Linked DNA regions of Homo sapiens. The protein of the gene in region 2 purifies or fractionates together with the protein of the main gene of each other region. This does not show direct contact. Each region holds a gene or a part of one and is shown on either strand. Other genes may lie near its edges. The genes, in order: CHP1, MS4A4A and XPOT.

Region 1 (3,216 bases), on a different chromosome or scaffold from region 2:
AAATTAGCCAGGTGTGGTGGCACGTGCCTGTAATCCCAGCTACTCAGGAGGCTGAGGCAGGAGAATTGCTTGAACCTGGGAGGCGGAGGTTGCAGTGAGCCAAGACTGTGCCATTACACTCCAGCCTGGGCAAGAGTGAGACTCCATCTCAAAAAAGAAATGCAAAGAAAAAGCCATGTAAAACCAGAGTATGTCACCGCTGAGGCTGCACATGAATGAGGAGGTGGGCAATTTAAGGAATGGACATATACTGGATTTTTAGGCTTTTTCTACATTTAAGGAGTCAGGGAGTCAAGAATAGAAATTGCGTCTTAGCTGGAATGAATGGGAAGTGGCCACGGCTGACAAAACCATGTCGAAGCCAAAAGTGCTGGCCCCTCGATGAATGTTTCCACTTCATATATCCAGGCAGCAGCAGAGTAGACTGCAGCTGACCGTACAGACATAAACTTGAGTAAGGGAGACACTGTGATTTCAAACTTGAAGGGACTAAGTTACATAAAATTCTTGTAAAATGGACAAAAGTTATTTTGTTTCAACCACAAGTATTTATTGATGGATCGAAGATACAATTTTAATGGAACAATAAGGCACAACCGTGGATTAAAACACTTTGCTATACAGCCAAAAGGGGGGAAAATCTATAACCTTAGGAACTTTATGCCAATCAAGAAGCCTCTAAAGTACCTCTCTAATAGATCAGTATCAGACATTCTTCCCTTTTACATAATTCCTATATTACATCACTTAATCATAAAATCTGACTGATACTTCATAAAGAATTCCTCATTCATTTATATTTGAGCCATCCAGCCTGGCTACTCCCCTGTTCTCCACCCTTTTCCATCACTTTGCAGTGGTATTTTTTAGCAATCTTCAATAGTTTTCCAAAGCAAGGAAACAAGCAAGCAAGCAATGAGTCAGAAAGTCAACCAAGGGCAGATGTGTGGCTAAATACACTCATAGAGACATACATTAGGATAGCAATAGCCTGATTCACTGAAGTCTAAACTAAGCTGACTTGGCAGAAAAGTTGCTGTGGCTCGCTCAAAGATCTGTAATGCCACCTTAGGTTGTGCTACTAGTGCCAGACCTCTTGTTTTTAAGGGATTAGCAGTGGTCTAAACAAGAAGCCAGGGAGCTAATGTAACCAGGCAGCTAATGACACAACAGTCAATGCTTTGGACATGTATTAGGAGCAGACTATGGCTTCCGTCATTAACATTTGCCAAGTGTAAAATTCATAAAGAATTTTGCGGCTGAGCACGGTGGCTCATGCCTGTAATCCCAGCACTTTGGGAGGCCGAGGCAGGAGGATCACCTGAGGTCAGGAGTTCAAGACCAACCTGGCCAACATGGTGAAACTCCCTCTCCACTAAAAATGCAAAAATTACCCAGGTATGGTGGCACACGTCTGTAATCCCAGCTACTTGGGAGGCTGAGGTGGGAGAATTGCTTGAACCCAGGAGGCAGAGGTTGCAGTGAGCCAAGATCACGCCACTGCACTCCAGCCTGGGTGACAGAGTGAGACTCCATCTCAAAAAAAAGAATTTTGTGCAAAACTTCAAGACACTAAGGAAACAATCTTTAAATATTTTGGACTGGGGCCAGGCGTGGTGGCTCACACCTGTAATCCCAGCACTTTGGGAGGCTGAGGCAGGCGGATCACGAGGTCAGGAGTTCGAGACCAGCCTGGCCAACATGGTGAAACCCTGTCTCCACTAAAAATACAAAAAATTAGCCGGGCATGGTGGTGCACACCTGTAATCCCAGCTACTTGGGAGGCTGAGGCAGGAGAATCACTTAAATCCAGGAGGCTGAGGTTGCAGTGAGCGATCGCACCACTGCACTCCAGCCTGGGTGACAGAGCAAGACTCTGTCTCAAAAAAAAAAAAAAAAAAAAAAAAAAATTTGGACTGGGATATTAGGCACTTCCGTAACACTAATATTTCTACTTGGAAATGTGAAGTGGAAAACATTCCAGTGCACATAACACTGAGGCATAAACCATGCTGCAAAGGTGTGAATGCATGAGGCTTTATAGGGTGCCCAGCCTCCTTATTAAATAAAAGCCATGAGAAAGTCCCTAGGCATATTGTCAGAGCAGCCATTCTGGTGGTAACGGTGTCCCCAAACTAAGCAAACCTGTAAGCATACTGCTGCTTTTTCAACAGTCAACATTGCACTAACAAGAGGAGCCACACAGGTACAAAGTTGAGAATCAGAGGCCAGAGATAGAGTGATGTGGGCAAGCAACCTAGAAGACTTGGCTCCATACCTCTCACCAAGGCCACCTTTCAAAAAGGGTATCTCCACCCAGCAGCCTTTGATGACAGAGCAGAGTGCAGAGGATGGTCTCATACTTCTGAGAGAAGTATTGATTACCAAAAAGCTCCTGAAGAGGCAACATCCCAGAGGCCCATTTAATAATGAAGGTAAATAAAAACTGCCAGACCCCTGAACTATCCTGCCAAGTCAGAAATACATATATAGGACATAGCTTGTGGTGCCAAGTAGAACAGAGGAGATTTTGAGGCTTAATGAAAAGCAGAAAGACTGCCAGAGTAAGTGAACAGTATGTTGGAAGACAGGGAAGTAGGAAGCAAAGAACATATAAAAAGGATGAAGAAGCATGCTGGCAGACTCGCTGGAGGGAAGGCAGCAGGGCTACAGTCTACATCTGGTGAAAGAGCTTTGCTGGCTTGTTCTTGGCATGATTGCCTCTCTCACTTTCTCAGACTGGATGGATGTGTGGCATTCAGCAGCAGAATGGGGAAGATGATATTTATAAATGAAGAACTAGTGAATGGATACTGAACAGAAATATATAGGGTGTACCATTCTGTAATGCCCTGTTTATACACCAAAGGCAGGTTTGTGTTGACAGAACATATTTGGGGTTGTCATGCAACAGCAGTAGTACTTTGGGAGAAGGGGAATGAGGGGGTGGAGGTGGAGTTGGTAGAAGGAGGACTTTCAAGTTCCAGTTCTTAAATACTAGACCGCAAGGAACAGTTTGGTCTCCTTTAGTGAAGAAATCGGATGCTCATTTTCTGTTCTACATCCACCTTCTCCAAAACCTGGGGGAGAAAACCAGTAACAGTTACAAAGGTTATGAAGATTACAACACTCCCAAGCTCTTATCTGAGTAATGTTTTCCCCCCTTCCTCCTGTGCAGTAAAACGTAACTTTTTTTTTTTTTTTTGGAGGCAGAGT
Region 2 (3,756 bases):
GTTAAAATTTTTAATGTTGATAACAAAAGCTCGGCTACTTCAGCACAAATCTATTGTAGTCTTACCTCGAATCTCTCTCCTTTTAATTTTTAAAGCTCCAAGTATATTTGACTTATTTAAGTTGTTCCAAAGACGTAATTTCATTCCTATATTGAGACATCTGCATATATTGAAACCATTTGCAGGAATGTTCCACCCCTCTTGTGACCACCTTGTAAGAACAAAAACAAACCCACCACATCATCTAATCTTCTCACACATGAACAGCATTTTATAGTCTCTATCTTCTCTCAGACACTATTCCCCCACTTCCCCACCATTGCCCACATGTGGATTAGTCAGCCTATGACGGTAAATAAGGGTTTAAGAAATGTGTTATGTTCCTTCTACATTGCAAAAGTCAAAGTTATTTGGAAAGTGACTAAAGATGATTCTTCTTAGTCCATCTAAATGTGTACTTTATTCTTCTTTAATGTAAAAGAACCTCTGCCTCAATCTCTCAGGCACACCTTCAGACTGAGAATTTAGGACATGTTGGGTCTGTCTTATCAAACGCACTGGTGGTTCTCTCTCTGTGTTTAGTGCCTCTCTGGTAAGACTGTAAGCTTCCTCGAGGGCAGAGCAATTATATCAAAATAAAGCTTGTAACTGACTCCTATGCTTTCCCATAATTCTTTGGTAACATAGGTCAGGTTCTGGTCATTCAAGGCTGGTGCTTTGTCATTCTAAGAAACTCTGGCCATAAATTCATATAACTGCCTCCTCTTTTTCCACCACAGAAATCCTTGTGTTAATTATCTACGGCACATGAAGTCCCCAAGAACAAAAACGTGTTTACCATCCAGGGCTTGACTTCTCTATATTCAATTTTTTTTTTAACTGCTGAGAATATTGGATGCATATGAGGGACATTTCTTCCAGGTTGGAGAAGAATTTAAACCTTGGTTTTGCCACATCACCTATATGCATCAGGCTCTTAAGAAATACAATGTCTTTCCCCCACACCCCTGATAAAGAGGTGGGGAAACCCAGACCACCCTTCCCTCTTCTATTGGCCCCAGTCACCTTGTGGATCAGCAGCACCACCAGTCTCTTATTTCCTCATTTTTATGTCACCATCCTCCTCATGGGTCACAATTGCAAGGAGAGAGCATGAGGAGAGTGGTACAAACAGCCATCCGTTTTTCTTGGCAAAGTTGTCAAATAGACTAGAAACCCAAAATGAGGCCTGAATCTGGATGGTTTTAGAAGGATGATGGGGATGCAGAAGTGGTGGCATGGGAAGGGAAAAGGGGGAAAGGCCCGGGCTAGGAACCAAGAATTCTGTTTTTGTTTTTGTTTTTGTTTTTCTCCCAGCCCTTTTGTTAACTTGTGTGATTCTGGGTACATTATTTCCCTTTTATTGGCTTCTTTTACTTCATCTGGGGAAAGATTACAATGGCCACGACCACTTACAAGCTTCTTTCTTATCCTAAGAATGCTAAAAGTCTACAAGGTGTTTTTCATTAGCAGATTTTATCATGAGCAGCCTCAGTTTACTGCCTGGGTGCCCCATGAATAGTGCCAAAGACCACTGGAGAACTAGGTCAGGCCACAGCCCATCTAAATGTACAAGGCTGGGGACCCTGCCTGTGCCCTACTCCATGTACACCAAATTCTGCATGTGATACATCTGTTCTTAAATCCTGAGTTATAAAAATAACCAGTCAGACACAGAGAATAAAGACCACAGAAGAAGGGCATTAACAGTAGATGAGGTAACTAGTCAAAGGTTTAAAATGTTGCTTTCAGTGTTTTGATATCCTGAAGACTCAGGGGACAAAAGTAACTAAACAACCTTATCCAGCCTCCAATGTCAGCCTTTAGGAGGCTTTTCTAACTCCTATCGACTGTAGCAAAAACTGTTCCTCATCCCCCCACCGAATGCACATTTAAAGGTGCACTCAACCCACCCCAACCCTGAATACCAGCTTGGGTCATGGGAAGTGGCCTCATTATTCTTCTCATTCCCCTCCCAGAAATTCTTAACCCAGGAAGTGAAACAAGCCATCAGCCCGAAAGCCTAGGAAGGCAAGTCCCTGGACCTACCTTTCTTCAGGCCTGCAATGTCTGCTGTAGGTCTGATGCATGCAGGGCTCTGGGCAAGTTCCTCAAAGTTCTTTGGTCTAGACCCAATCAACTTCCCCCACTCCACACCTCACTCAGTTTAAATCTGCATTCCTCTTCTAGCAGATGTTTGGAACCTTAAAGGCTGTGCTGAGAATTTCTGAGACGCACAGCTAGTTCCTCTTTTATATCGGAAGCATTAACTGATTTTGTGTTCCCAATATGGGTGTGGATGTCTATTTTGAAATTTGCTGAAAAAGCAGGGGCTGCCTGATACAGTCTTTCCTATGAAAATAATACTGCTAATTACTGTGGATATCAGTGGTAGAGGATTTACTGTATGCCAGACTCTCTTCAAAAGTCGTTATATAAACAAGTAAATGGTATTTTGTAAATACCCCCTTTCACAGGGTCACACATTTCCACAGTACTCTTGTCTTCCTGGAGCACTACTATTACTATTTTATTAGGTTGGTGCAAAAGTAATTGCAGTTTTTGCCATTATTTTATGGCCAAAATCACAATTAACTTTTGCACCAACCTTAATATACACAACTTAAATGTTTTATTTACATGAAATTCCACCTTTAGAGATTCATCAGGAGTGGCCATAAAATGGCAACAAGTTGGTTGTATGGCAATAAAACAACACCTTTCTAAGTGAAGGAAGCAGCTGGTATCATAGAACGAGCTGGTCTTTGACTAAGATCAAACCAATGGCAAACATTTCTTGCATGGCCCTGTTAATCTCCTGAACCTAAGATTCATTTGTAAAATAAAATAATGCCTACTTTACATGGAGGAGGAAAGCAAAGTGGTGTGCAGTTTTCATTCATTCAGCATTTTCTTTAGAAAAACTACTATAAGCCAAGCAGTGTGCCGTGTGCTTCTGAAAAAATGGTAAAAAATAATTTTCACTCAAAGAGTTTATAGACTACTTGGAAAAACAGACCAGTAAATAAATCACTACAATCCATTACTATCAGTTATCTGCAAGGTAAAGTGGCAATACAGATGAGTAAATACATCATTACAACCCATTGTAATCAGTGATCTGCAAGGTAAAGTAGGATATCCTAAGAGAGCTCATAGGAGGATCAATGAACCCAACATTGGGTAGGCAGAGGAGACTTCCTAGATAAGGGGACATCTAATTGGAGACCTGATGAATGAGCAAAAGACACACAAATGGAAAGGGAATGAAGGAAGGTAATATTATTATTTCTATTTTTCAGAAGAAGAAACTGAAACTCAGAGATATTCGTATAGCTGGTATAGATGAGATTGAAATCCAGTTTTACTTAATTCCAAAAACTATGTGGTCTATAATCTGAAATTACGATTCTCAAAATTAAAATAGATTATATTTCAGAAATATTGTCCTGGTTTCAGACAACAGGAATAAATAATAATAAAATCAGAGAATTAGGCTCAAGGTAGAGGCAGTTCTCTAGGGAAGGGATGATGGTTACTGAACTACCTGTGATGCTAGTGAAGTTGGAGAGAATGAATGGATTTGAAAGATGCTTAGGAACAAGAAATGACAGTACTTGTTGGTATAATGGATGTGTAAATCAGGAGAAAAAACAGGAAAGGATGACACTCAGATTCTGGGTTAGGAAACTGAATGAGTGATAGAGCCATTCAGTA
Region 3 (3,656 bases), on a different chromosome or scaffold from region 2:
CAGCCTCATATATTTGAAAGGGAAAATTTGTATAGCTCTCAATTATCTGAAGTTCCCTAACATAAACTGATAATGCCACTCATCATTGCTTTAAAGATAAGGACAAGAGTGGCAGGTAGGGCATCAATATCAATCTTTAATTTGTGATTCTGTTCATGTTGAAACAAATGATGGCTACACAATTTTTCGAATGAAAATGTTTTGTGGTCTGTGATCTACAGAATAAACCAATAGGTGAACTAGGAATCCTCTCAGTAGTGATTTGTTATTTTGCTTAATTAGTAAGTCAGAGATTCTGAACACAAGTGCCCATGCAGCTACTTAACTCTAAGAGAGAATTGTCATGTAGAAAAACAGGCCTGGTGTTACCAGATATTCTGACTTTTCCAGAAAAGCTGGAAATCTAGATTTTTCTGTGAAATATCTGGATTTTCATTTTTTTTTTTTTTTTTGAGACAAGGTCTTGCTGTATTGCCCAGGCTGAAGTGCAGTGGCACCATCATGGCTCACTGGAGCCTCAACCTCCTGGCCTCAGCTTCCCCAGTAGCTGGGAATACAGAAGCGCGCAATCATGCCTGGCTAATTTTTTAAAAAAATTTTTGTAGAGATGAGGTCTCACTATGTTGCCTAGGCTGGTCTCAAACTCCTGAGCTCAAACGATCCTCTTGCCTTGGACTCCCAAAGTGCTGAGATCATAGGCATGAGCCACTGCGCCCAGCCTTGGATTTTTATGTGTAACCAACAAACTCAGCACTTTTTTTATTTTTGAGACGGAGTCTCGCTGTCACCCAGTCTGGAGTGCAGTGGTGTGATCCCGGCTCACTGCAACCTCCGCCTCCCAGGTTCAAGCAATTCTCGTGCCTCAGTCTCCTGAGTAGCTGGGATTACAGGTGCATGCCACCACATCTGACTAGTTTCTGTATTTTTTGTAGAGACGGGGTTTCACCATGTTGGCCAGGCTGGTTAGTCTCAAACTCCTGACTTCAAGTGATCTACCGGCCTCAGCCTCCCAAAGTGCTCGGATTACAGGCGAGAGCCACCTCACCTGGCCAACTCAGCACTTTTAAAACACTTTGGGGTACATCAAAACGTATCTATAACCTGGATATAACATATACACTGTGAATTTACAACCTGTATTATGGTTTCCTTATGGAAGAAAAACATTAAATTAAAAAAATGACCTCTCCCCGCAAATCTGAGTCAAAACAGTAAGAAAAGCCTTACTTGTATTTAACTTGATGTTCCAGTACTTGAAAGCAGAAAAACTTCACATGATCATCACTGAAAAAGAAAAAAAGAAAATGAGATAAGCAGAATATGAACTGAGGAAAACAAATCAAAGGCAAAATAGTAATGAGTAATACAGCAGAAAAGTTTCTCAAACTAGACCTTTGGCTTGTTTCATACTTACTGGTCTCATTTTATGACATTAAAATCCATTTACTTAAAAAGCTATGAGAACTCTAAATATTACACAATATTTAAAATTTCCATTAAATCTGACAAGCAAACTAACCAAGATATTAAGATGCACCTTGAATACAATGCTTTGTAAGCAGCAAACCATCCCTCTAAATTCCAGATATTAAGATTCCTGGAACAGTCCCTTCATTTTACAATAACAGGTTAGGTGTAAAATTACAAATGGCAGAACAGACAGAGTCTGAGTGAAAGTAAAGATGGTCGTCCAAGTCCTGCTTAAAATTCAACCCCAGTAGTTCTATTGTAGCCAAATCCAAAACAAGCAGGGCCACATGGACTGTCAGTCCAACTTCAAAGTTTCGTACAGGACACTAAATTACAAATATGGTACCCTTGCTTATACAAGATGGGGGCAAAAGTCAACACACCAATTACCCACTTCCAACTGTCTTTCTAGGGGAGTGGCAGAGTTGCAGTTAGCCAGCTATAAACACTGACAAAGATCTTCTAGAGACCAACAATCTGCCAATGAAGTGAGTATAAGAGAGTTCCTATTTCCGTAAAAAGTTAGTTGAATGCTTTAGAAAGATTTCATAGAAAGCCACACTGCAGAAGGAAAAAATCTTGTACATATTTGACATGGCCTATATAACCAGAAGACTTGAGAGGCGGGGACAAATATCTTAAAAATCTATGGATCGTCACTCATTGTACAGAGACCCATGCTAGAAATTGTAGAGGATGGGTTACAGGTGTGACCAACCTACGAATAAAGTGAATGCTAGTTAGTATACAAAGATAAAGACTGTGGTCCAATATTAAAAGATTGGTCACCGAATGATTATATACCTTAAGTTAAAATTAAAAATTAAGATATAGGCCGGGTACGGTGGCTCACGCCTGTAATCCCAGCACTTTGGAAGGCCGAGACGGGCGGATCACAAGGTCAGGAGATCGAGACCATCCTGGCCAACACAGTGAAACCCTGTCTCCACCAAAAAGAAATACAAAAAAATTAGCCGGGCATGGTGATGGGCACCTGTAGTCCCAGCTACTCAGGAGGCTGAGGCAGGAGAATGGCAAGAACCCAGGAGGCGAAGCTTGCAGTGAGCCTAGATTGCGCCACTGCACTTCAGCCTGGGCGACAAAGCGAGACTCCATCTCAAGAAAATAATAATAATAATAATAAAATAAATAAATAATTTTAAAATTAAGATATATATCATTTACAATCACCGTCTTTACCAAAGTTTTAGGAAAGCAGTTATCACCCTCAATCATAAGATAAGGAAGTTTTTACTGCACTTTATTCCAGCTGGGATCTGGTGACAGGTACACAATATATACCAAAGGATGGTTTTACTGAAAAGTTAATTCTGAAATGGCCAAACTGGGTTTACTACTTTTCTCATTTCTACATGGAATGACTATATGTTAATGGCTTTGCAAAAAAAAAAAAAAGTCATAAAATGTTTTTATGAAAACACTTTCCAAATACAGGTAAATTTCACAGTCCTGTCATGTCCACAGAAATTTAAATTGTCATGCAAATTTTGTTTTTAATTACCTGTATGTCCTCTGGGCTAGAGCTTCTGCACACACCTGCCAGGCATCTGGGGAAATTTTTAACTGCTCAAAATAGGCCAGGGCCTATAAGATTGCAAAACAAAAAAATGCATTTAGAATAAACAATCTCAATGCCCTGCTAATATAAACAAAATATTCTGAGAGTTGCAAACCTATAACAAATCAGTAAACTTAATAGAAAAACAGTTAAAACATTAAATGCAGGCTTCCGAATATATGCAACTTGGGGTCATTCCTAAAAATAGGTTAAATAAATATAAATTCCATCAGTTAGATAATCAAACCTGTTTTCTTACAGCAGCAACAACACAAAAATGCCCCGCAGCCTTCATGGGGTTATTATGAAGAATGAGAGCAAGTGCTTTGTCAAGTGCCATACTACTGAGAAATTGCAGAGGATGAGTTAAGGGTGTGATCATTTTATAATATGCAATTATAAAATGGCACGTGAAGGGCACTTTTCCTATTTAATAGCACATCTGCTATTAAAGCGGTGATTATAAAAGATAAAACATACTGTGTACCTTATCTGATCTACTGTTACACAGGAGAGTATTTCAAGTCTTTAATTATATCATGTAAGTTCCCTAAAGAGATTAAAATTGGAGTACAAGTGCATGATATGAATTTTGAAAAATATTAAG

The links.
Region 1: the proteins of MS4A4A (region 2) and CHP1 purify together in Homo sapiens (affinity purification with mass spectrometry; one large-scale study listed by BioGRID and IntAct). This does not show direct contact.
Region 3: the proteins of MS4A4A (region 2) and XPOT purify together in Homo sapiens (affinity purification with mass spectrometry; one large-scale study listed by BioGRID and IntAct). This does not show direct contact.

What each region holds. Positions count from the first base shown.
Region 1 is NC_000015.10:41,279,200-41,282,415, reverse strand, and holds the end of CHP1 (calcineurin B homologous protein 1), read right to left. Parts: intron 3,081-3,216; coding exon 3,027-3,080; 3' UTR 529-3,026; downstream 1-528. UniProt on the Homo sapiens protein: Calcium-binding protein involved in different processes such as regulation of vesicular trafficking, plasma membrane Na(+)/H(+) exchanger and gene transcription. Involved in the constitutive exocytic membrane traffic.
Region 2 is NC_000011.10:60,279,049-60,282,804, reverse strand, and holds the start of MS4A4A (membrane-spanning 4-domains subfamily A member 4A), read right to left. Parts: upstream 2,140-3,756; 5' UTR 2,130-2,139; coding exon 2,089-2,129; intron 212-2,088; exon of another isoform or gene 66-211; intron 1-65.
Region 3 is NC_000012.12:64,414,326-64,417,981, reverse strand, and holds part of XPOT (exportin-T), read right to left. Parts: intron 3,076-3,656; coding exon 2,993-3,075; intron 1,285-2,992; coding exon 1,228-1,284; intron 1-1,227. UniProt on the Homo sapiens protein: Mediates the nuclear export of aminoacylated tRNAs. In the nucleus binds to tRNA and to the GTPase Ran in its active GTP-bound form. Docking of this trimeric complex to the nuclear pore complex (NPC) is mediated through binding to nucleoporins.